Homo sapiens: one gene and its partner. The protein of the gene in region 2 interacts with the protein of the main gene of each other region in a biochemical or structural test. Each region holds a gene or a part of one and is shown on either strand. Other genes may lie near its edges.

Region 1 (4,914 bases), about 78 Mb from region 2:
CCCCATTTTCATCTCGCTCATGGTGTCATCGTCTGTGGTCATGCCACTCCGCTCTTCCTTGATCTTTAAGGCACGTTCCTTCAGGATTCGGTCTCGCACGGGTCTCTTTGTGATGTACCGTGTCCCGTCGCTCCTAATTTTCACCTTCCATTCCATCTTGGGCTCTGAACACTTCTGAGACTCCTTGCACATGCTCACCAAGCTGAGCTGACTCTGAGCATACTCGACTGCAGATTTCTGTTGAATTAACTGCATGTAGCTTTGATAATGCCGGGCGTGTGCTGGGATGTTTGCATATCTATATGAGGAGCTGTGGTAAGGAGAGAGGTAAGGGATGTGTTCGCTGACTGCCTTCTCTTGATCAGGAAGCTTGCTGCCTTCTAAAACCTTCTCCTTGCTTTCAGCGCTACAACCTTGCTCAGTGGTTTTGGCTTTGGTGGAGGTCGACTCTTTACTGCTCTGTCCGGAAGAGGACTGGGTGGCTGCCATTGTGCTTCTCAGGTTTTTCTTATTGGTGAGGTTGATCACCCTTGGAAGGGAACTGTCAGGGGAACGGTCTACAGTGAGCGGAGTACTTCTGCAGCTCTCAGCTGTGTTGTAAGCACTAGAACTGTCCTTGTCAGACTTTTCTGGATGCTCCATGATGTCATCTAGCTTTCCCCTTTGCATATCTATGCTGGTGTTATAATTCCGGAATCCTCCATCATGCAATGTCCAGATGTCTCCATACTGGTCTGTCACTTTCTGGAGCCTGTGAGCCTGCATGATATTCTGACACTCAAGCTCAATGTTTCTCAGTTCTTCATTAAGCAACTGTAGCTCATGCTCCACTCCCTCTTGCTCCCCTTGATTGCATTCAATTGTGCTGCTTGAGTAATACAGGTCATACTCTCCATGATTTCGAATCTTGCATTTGAGCTCCAAGAGCTGCCTGAATCTTTCACAGTCCTCATCTGGGTTGCCAATGCAGTCTGAGTCAATGTATTCACCAGATACGAGGCTCTCATTGTACTGAAGTTCAACACTTCCCAGAGTGTCTTGGCTCTGCCCCAGGTCTCTCTTGCTCTTCAAAGATGTGCTATTGGGGTCCTCGGCTGCATTCTCCTGCTCTGAGCTCTCATCATTTCGCAAGCTTTCATCTGTACGTCCTACTCCACTGTCCTTCTCATGGTTGTTGGATGAGGATGTTGCAGTGTCTGTTGTGCCTTCTTCTTCTTCTTGCTTTTTTGGCTAAGAAAATGATGTTGAAAGAACAAAGAAAATTAATGATTTTGGAAGACATTTGTTATTAAAAATCTTGTTTGAAAACCAATGTTTCCTGGCAAAGTTGCATCTCCTAGACAGTTGCTCTAATTTAGGGTCCATCACAATTTTAGAAATAAAGGAAATTAGCTCATGGCAGCTTTTTATACAATGAAATGAAGAAAACAAAACCCGCTTGAATATGGCTATGATATTCACATGGATATAAATAAGACAGAATGCATTCAAATAAGTGATTCTTTAGGTTTTCTCTTACTTGGGAAACTCGGGGTTGAAGGTGTATAAACAAAGTGACTGTATGAATTTCTGAGGTGATAATATGCAAAAGAATAAGACAGAATGTCTAAATAGTCTTCAGCAATATGGAGACCTGATGTTCAGAAGCCACAATCACCTTATGTTTTTCCCCTTAAGTACAGAGGAAACTTCACTGGCTTAGTAATATGCTGACAATGGGTAAGCCAAACATCACAGAGTTTTAGGACTAAGTTAACATTATGTACTGGAGCCTAGGACATTGCTATCTATAGGTGAGGATGCTCAATTCCAAAAGGATTCAGGTTATTAGTGGCAGATTCAGGTTATTAATGACAGATGGAGGCAAAGCTTCATCTTCCAGTGCCAGAATTTCTTATATGTCCAGGATGCCATATTCCTGAATACATGTGCTCTGACCTCAGTGCACTCTAAATCATGTTTCTCAAAAGCAACAACAATGTTTTAGGACTCATTGGGGTTGTATAAGATTTTTCTACTCTTAACCAGGGATTTTTTTTCAAAGATAAATTTTAGTCTATTGAGAATAAAAATTCAGTCCCATGAAAATTTGAACAGCACTGATTGCCAGACATGGGCATAATATCAAAAAAATTTTGACACTTATGTCACATATATGTATATAGGCATGCATGTATGTTTATGTAGTGTGTGTGTGTGTGTGTGTGTGTGTGTGTGAGAGAGAGAGAGAGAGAGAGAGAGAGAGAGAGAGAGAGAGACTCTGGTAATTTTTGGCTTTCATGTAAAACAATTAACTGTAACTGTCCTAATAAGATGCATGTGTAGTTCTTTCTCTGTGAATATGGTAAAGTTACTTTCACCTCTATCAGTCATCATATGATAATCTATAAGGCAGTTTCTAGGTTATATCTGCCTTATGCCTAAGTTTATTCACTATATATATATATAGATAGATAGATAGGTATAGATATAGCTCCATCCCTCTAGAAGATGTAATTACACAATTAAATATAATCAAGCCAACAGCTAGTGCTAAAGAAGGATAGAACGGGTGACAAAAGATATTCTAAAAGAAGTCTAAAAAGGTCTCTCTAGATAATTGTTATTTTGTTCCACAAAAGTAGTGGCAGGATAAAAAGTAACAATATCAAGAGGAGAGAACATAACCATGTATCAGCTTTTCTATGACTCTCAATCTTTCTTTCCCTGGAACATGTTCCTTCATTTGTTGAAAACATACTGAGATTTATCTTAAATGTCTTATTGATTAAAAAATTATAATAAGTAACTGTAACGAACAATGGGAAGCTTGCTGCATCCCTAGGCTGTGACTTATAAGGTGACAATAGTATTTAATATGGCAATGTCTTTATACTACACCATATAACTCTCAAAGAATGTTATTGATACTGGGCATTTGAATTTATATATCGTGTTATTTATAATTATATTTTTCTAATATCTTGTCATGAGCTGAAAAATACAAGAAGACTAGTAATTTTTTTCTTATTTTACATGCAGATGACATAATAATGACAAATTATGCTATGGGAGATGTTGCACAATGTAACGGCATTCATAAGACCAAACATACTGTGTAAAATGAAACTTTCCATAAAGTAGGTTCACATATGGGTAGGTATTTTATTTTTTCAATTGAATATCCCCTTTCCCTTGTTATTGGTCTATGAACAACTGTGAAAATAAAATAGTTTTCTATTCTCAAACCTAGAATTCCTAGTTTCTAATGCAATGCTACTCTATCATTTATCATTTCCCTATGGAATTATTATAGTGACAGGCAATGTTTCTACCTAGACATTTCTAATGTAGTATTATTGTTTATAAGGGCAAAGGACTTTTAAAGGTTTCTGTACTTCTCACCATTTTTTAGTCTCATGGTGAAGAAAAAAATTCCACACAATGAGAATCTAACCTCAGAGGCATCTAGTGTTACCTCACGAGACCTAACATTTGTATTACCTCTGATGAGTAGGCAGCGTTTGACACCGTTGTCACTTTACCTGGACAGGATTTCTCCCTGCTTTCCTTATTCCAACATCCTCCTATCAATTCAGTATCAGGTCACATTTTGTATCTAAGAAAAAAAAAGCCTGGAGCAAGGACTTTCTTGCTTGTAACCAGCAGCTGCCACCAAAAATATCTTTATTTTTGGCCAGTGTTGAAGTTATACATAAAAATTTTAATCTGCCCTACCTATATTGAAAGACAGTCACCACAGTAGCGATATTACTTGTGAGCATGAAATTCTGTTTGTGGAGTGGCCAAACTCCACATAATGAGCACATGAGTATATCACATATGACTATGTTGATGCTATAGTGTGCAATCTAATTATTTATTTAATATGTGGACATGTGCACACACATACACATTTCTGTTATGGGATGTTAGCAAGCTGAATATTTCATTATTCAACATGGTAAAGTGATAGAATGTTTGTGCTGCAAGTTTCTAAGCCTGTCAAGATTTTCAAAAAAATTATCATCTTTTAAGATGTGTTAAGAATTAATGTTGAGGCCAGGTGCAGTGGCTCATGCCTGCAATCCCAACACTTTAGGAGGCTGAGGCTGGTGGAGCACTTGAGGTCAGGAGTTCGAGGCCAGCCTGGTCAACATGGTGAAACCCCATCTCTACTAAAAATACAAAAATTAGCTGGGTGTGGTGGTGGGATCCTGTAATCCCAGCACTTTAAGAAGCTGAGGCTGGTGGACCACTTGAGGTCAGGAGTTCGAGAACAGCCTGATCAACATGGTGAAACCTCATCTGTACTAAAAATACAAAAATTAGCTGAGCATGATGGCGTGCACTTATAGTCCCAGCTACTCAGGAGGCTGAGGCAGGAGAATCGCTTGAGCCCAGGAGGCAGAGGTTGCAGTGAGCTGAGATTGTGTCACTGCACTCCAGCCTGGGCGACAGAGTGAGACTCTATCTTAAAATAATAATAATAATAATGATAATAATAAGAATAGACAGGGCACGGTGGCTCATGCCTGTAATCCCAGAACTTTGGGAGGCCGAGGCAGGTGGATCACGAGGTCAGAGTTTAAGACCAGTCTGACCAACATGGTGAAACCCTGTCTCTATTAAAAATACAAAAATTAGCTGGGCATGGTGGTGGGCATCTGTAATCCCAGCTACTCAGGAGGCTGAGGCAGGAGAATCAATTGAACCCGGGAGGCGGAGGTTCCAGTGAGCTGAGATTGTGCCACTGCACTCCAGCCTGAGCGACAGAGCAAGATTCCGTATATATATATATAATAAAATACATATAATAATGTTGAGAATAGGAAGATAATTAAACAAATCAGTAAACTGAAAACAAAATTATATCAGGCAGATAAATGACATGAGTGTAACATAAAAAATCTAGAATACATTGAACTTGTTTTT
Region 2 (5,451 bases):
TGCTTGCAAGACAGGGTCTTGCTCTGTGGCTCAGGCTGGAGTGCATTGGCACAATCACGGCTTACTGCAGCCTTGACCTCCTGGGCTCAAACGATCCTCCCACTTCAGCTTCCTGAGTAGCTGGGACCACAGGTGTGTGCCACCATACCTGGCTAATTTTTGTATTTTTTGTAGAGATGAGGTTTCACCATGTTGCCCAGGCAGGTCTCGAATTCCTGGGCTCAAGTGATCTACTTGTCACAGCTTCTGCAAGTGTTGGGCTTACAGGCATAAGCCCCTGTACCAGGGCAAGTTTGTCCTTTTATTGAAGAAAGAAAAATAAATGAACAAAGATGCTTTTTAAAACTACAATTTCTGTGGGTATAATCCTATTCATTTTCATTGCAGGGATGTTTATTTTTTAAGATTTTTTTTTTTTTTTTTTGAGACAGAGTCTTCGCTGTCGCCCAGGCTGGAGTGCAGTGGCGCGATCTCGGCTCACTGCAGGCTCTGCCCCCCGGGGTTCACGCCATTCTCCTGCCTCAGCCTCCCACGTAGCTGGGACTACAGGCGCCCGTCACCTCGCCCGGCTAATTTTTTGTATTTTTAGTAGAGACGGGGTTTCACTGTGTTAGTCAGGATGGTATTTTTTAAGATTTTAAAAAAAGTTTTGATGAATACCACACCTGTTTAACCCTCATTCCTCTCAAGATACACATTTCTGTCACCCCAGATGCGTTAAAACTTAATATCATAAGATTACTTCCAAATAGATTTTTAATTCTTTTGTTTCTGATGTATGTGGAACACTGGTGAAGTAGAAATCCTTGTTTGATTTATGTATTCGTAAGTCAGGGGGACAATAGAGACCATGAAGATTTAGAATTGAATCCCAGTCCCAGCACTAGTTAGCTGCATTACTTTGGGTGAGTCAGTTACCTTTTCTGAGTCCATTTGCTATTCTTTAAAATAGGTTGTAGCCTGTAATGCCAGTATTTTCGGAGGCTGAGGCGGGCGGATTACTTGAGGTCACGGGTTCGAGACCAGCCTGGACAACGTGGTGAAACCCTGTCTCTACTAAAAATATAGAAAATTAGCTGGGCATGGTGGTCGCATGTACCTGTAATCCCAGCTACTTGAAAAGCTGAAGCAGGAGAATCATTTGAACCCGGGAGGCGGAGGTTGTCGTGAGCCGAGATGGTGCACTGCACTCCAGCCTGGGCGACAGAGTGGGTAAGACTCCATCTCAAAACAAAACAAAACAAAAGAAAACAAAAAAAATAACATAGAGGTTGTAGTACCTAATCCACAGGGTTGTTGTGAGGATTAGATGAGATATTCGATTTAAAGCACTTAGCACCTTGCCTGGCTCTTAGTAAACTCCTTATAAAAAATGGTAATTATTGTTAATACTCAGCATAGAATAGTATTAGTTATAATATTAATACTAAATTTGTTTCCTTAATAGTAATTATATTTGGGAAGGTAGTTATGTAGGATACCTGTAAGATGATGAATGATGAAGTATTCTTGATAACTTTTTTTTTTTTCCAAAATATTGGTATTGGGTGTTTAAACAGATGAGAGTGGAAACAAATTGAAAGCTTAGGTTTTTCTGTGGGACCATCCCCATCAGCATTTTAAGTCTTGACATATCTTTCACAAATGAATAGTCTGTCTTTAACCTTAGATGGCTGGAGTGCTGCCACGTTTCAGCCCCTTTATCATGCTACTTTAAAATATCTCCAACTTGCTGGGCGTGGTGGCTCACGCCTGTAATCCTAGCAATTTGGGAGGCTGAGGTGGGTGGATTGCTTGAGGTCAGGAGTTCGAGAGCAGCCCGGGCAACATGGTGAGCCCCTCCGTTTCTACTAAAAACACAAAAAATAGCTGACTGTGATGGTGTGTGCCTGTAGTCCCAGCTACTCGGGAGGCTGAGGCAGGAGGATCACTTGAGCCCTAGAGGCAGAGGTTGCAGTGAGCTAAGATTGTGCCACTGCACTTCAGCACTTCAGCCTAGGCGACAGAGCAAGACCCTGTAAATTAAAAAAAAAAAAAAAAAGAAAAGGAAAAAAATTTCCAACTTATTAAGGGCTTATAGTGTGCTGATTATGTAATAGTTATGGCTTCCAATGTGTCTGGCATAGAACTGGCATGTTTCTGAGTATCTCACTTCAGCCTCATGACAGAGGTAAGGACTATTTTTAATTTAAACTTTAAATAGGAGGCAACAGGCCAGGTGTGGTGGCTCACACCTGTAATCCCAGTACTTTGGGAGGCTGAGGCAGGTGGATTGCTTGAGTCCAAGAGTTCAAGACTAGCCTGGGCAAAATGGTGAAACCCCATCTCTACAAAAAATATAAATAATTAGTCAGGCATGGCGGTGTGTGCCTGTAGTCCCAGCTACTCAGGAGGCTGAGGTGGGGGCATCTCTGGGGCCCCGGAGGCAGAGGTTGTAGTGAGTTGAGATTGCAACACTGCACTCCAGCCTGGGCAACAGAACGAGACCCTGTTTCTAAATAAATACATAAATAGGAGGCAACAGATATAGACAGATATGGAGGTAGGTAAGGCCTTGCCCAAGATCATACACGTTGGGTTTTGCAGATGAGGCCAAGATCAGACTCCATCTTTGGTTGGTCTGACTCCAAAGGCTGACCACATAGCCATTGGGCCACAGCACCTGTGCACGTCAGAATTTATTAAGTATATCTTGTATTTAGTCATTATAACAGGAAGACTTATGGGTAAACCCTCAGTTCATCTCTTTTTAATGCTGAGATCCCCCTGCCCAGTAAAGCTATTATTGCAAGTATAGTATATACCTATCATTTGCCTTGAGTTATCAGGTAAGGATGCTGTTTGTTCTTTTCCCATATAGTGCTGTTTGAATGAGGTTGAGATACAGTAGCAATTTTGTTTTCCATTCAGGTGAGTACCTTAGACTGAGTGTCATTTTGTCTTTTTTACTTCTACTCAACAGGATTTCCTGACATGTTCGAGGTCAGTGATTGTCAGACTTTCTGAGCCAGCAAAATTTCCCAAATTGCTGGGTAGACACAGGTTTTCCAACTTTTTATTTTGCCAAGTAAGGATATATAAAAAAAAAATAAAAAGAAAGACCTATTATTTTCTGGCCCTTGTATTTCATAAAGGGCATTTTAAGAAACAACAAGACAGGAAGAACATCATCTCAGAATAAAGGACCATTTTTAAATTTGAATACATTTAGTTTTATAAAAAAGATATCATGTGGTGTTCATTTTTTCTCATTTCACTGCAGGCTGTTGAAAACTTTGTTAAGAACCAGTACTATATTTGGGAACCCCTGCTTTAATTGATCTAAACTCTTGAAGAATAGAAGAAACAAAGCATTTTATTTTTCTGAGTTACTGGCAACTATTACTAAAGTGACAGATATGGTGGCCTTGAATGCAGTGCTTCCCAAACCTGATTGAGGTCTGACTCTCTTGGGGACCAGGGTCTCATTCTGTTGCCCAGGCTGGAGTGTGGCAGCACAATCTTGGCTCACTGCAGCCTTTACTTCTTGGGCTCAAGTGATCCTTCTACCTCAGTCTCACAAGTGGCTAGGACTACAGGACCATGGCACTACACCTGGCTAATTTTTTTTTGTTTGTTTGTAGAGATGGGATCTCGCTGTGTTGCCCTGGCTGGTCTTGAACTCCTGGGCTCAAGTGATCCTCCCACCTTGGCCTCCCAAAGTGCTAGTATTCCAGGTGTGAGCCACCTCTCCCTGCTGGGGAACTTGTTAATAAAACAGATTCTAGGCTACAGTCTGGAAAATTCTAATTCATTTGGTTGTGGGGGAGGGGGGCATAGGACCAGAGAATGTGTTTGTTTGTTTGTTTGTTTTTCTTAAATTCTCCAGTGCTGTTGTGATTCAAATGCAGCCGGTCTGTTTCTGTTATCAAGTGCTGTGTAACAAAGCACTCACAAAGTTTAAAGCAACAATGATTTATTTTTTCTTAGGATTCTGTGGGTTGGCTGGACTCAGCTAGGTAGTTCTGCTTCATCCTGTGATGTCAGCTGGGGTCACTTGTGGGGCTACATTCAGCTGGGATTATGTCTGGGACTGGAACATGTGGGTGCTGACTGCTGGCTGGGGCACCTTAGTGTTTCTCACATGGCCTCTCTTCTCCATGAGGTCTTTCAGTAGTATAGCCCAGGACTCGTAACTTTTTTTTTTTTTTTAAGACAGACTGTCGCCCTGTCGCCCAGGCTGGAGTGCAGTGGCACGATCTCTGCTCACTGCAACCTCCGCCTCCTGGGTTCAAGCAATTCTCCTGCCCCAGCCTCCCGAGTAGCTGGGATTACAGGCACGTGCCTCCACGCCCGGCTAATGTTTGCATTTTTAGTAGAGATGGGGTTTCACCACGTTGGTCAGGCTGGTCTCGAACTTCTGACCTCGCGATCCGCCTGCCTCGGCCTCCCAAAGTGTTGGAATTACAGGTGTGAGCCACTGCACCTGGCTGACTCGTAACTTTTTTTGTAAGTAATAAATATTTTAGGCTTTGTGGGTCCTGTAGTCTCTGTTGCAACCACTCAACTTGGCCATGGTAGCACAAAAGCAGCTAAAGACAATATGTAAATGATGGGTGTAGCTGTGTTCCAGTAAAACTTATAAAAAGTCCGTGGGCTGGATTTGGTCCAAGGGCTACAGATTGCACACCCCTGGTCTAGCCCAAGCATCTGTGCATGGTGGCTGGCTTCCCAAAAGTGGAAGCTGCTAAGCTGCCTTTTTTTTTTTTTTTTTTTTTTTTGAGAGGGAGTCTCACTGTGTTGCCTAGGCTGGAGTGCGGTGGTGTGATCTCGGCTCACTGCAACCTCCATCTCCCGGGTGCAGGCAATTCTCATGCCTCAACCTCCCAGGTAGCTGGGATTACGGGTGCCTACCACCACGCCTGGCTAATTTTTGTATTTTGGTAGAGACAGGGTTTCACCATGTTGGCCAGGCTGGTCTCAAACTCCTGACCTCAAGTGATCCACCCGTCTTGGCCTCCCAAAGTGCTGGGATTACAGATGTGAGCCACCGTGTCTGGCCGCTTGACAAGCTTCTTAAAGGCACTGCCCTGAACTGGCACAGTGTCACTTGTGTCACATTCTTTTGGTTGAAGAGAGTCTCAGAGATGGCACAGATTCAAAGGCAGGAGAAATAGACTCCAGCGCTTAAAGTAAGGAGTAGCATGTGCCTACAGAATTGGAGGAACTGTTGGAGGCCATCTTTGAAGAGAGACCACCACTATCCATGGCTTGGCACGTGGGAATCACTGCTCTATACCAGGGTTGCAGACTCATGTCTTTGGGGGCCAGGCAGTGAGTATAAATGAGTCAAGTGGGCCAGTTGGAAGATGGAGTCAGACCTGCAGTGAACTCCCAAACACATCTGCTACCGGGAGGGGCAGCATTACTCAGCTCCAGCTCAGCGTCATCAGGCAGGAAGGCGAGGCAGTG

Evidence for each region. The genes of interacting proteins can lie anywhere in the genome.
Region 1: the proteins of CIT (region 2) and PDZRN4 interact in a test that uses a peptide from one of them, tested with the Homo sapiens proteins (one large-scale study listed by IntAct).

The regions. Positions count from the first base shown.
Region 1 is NC_000012.12:41,568,680-41,573,593, reverse strand, and holds part of PDZRN4 (PDZ domain-containing RING finger protein 4), read right to left. Parts: intron 1,231-4,914; coding exon 1-1,230.
Region 2 is NC_000012.12:119,869,859-119,875,309, reverse strand, and holds part of CIT (citron Rho-interacting kinase), read left to right. Parts: intron 1-5,451. UniProt on the Homo sapiens protein: Plays a role in cytokinesis. Required for KIF14 localization to the central spindle and midbody. Putative RHO/RAC effector that binds to the GTP-bound forms of RHO and RAC1. It probably binds p21 with a tighter specificity in vivo.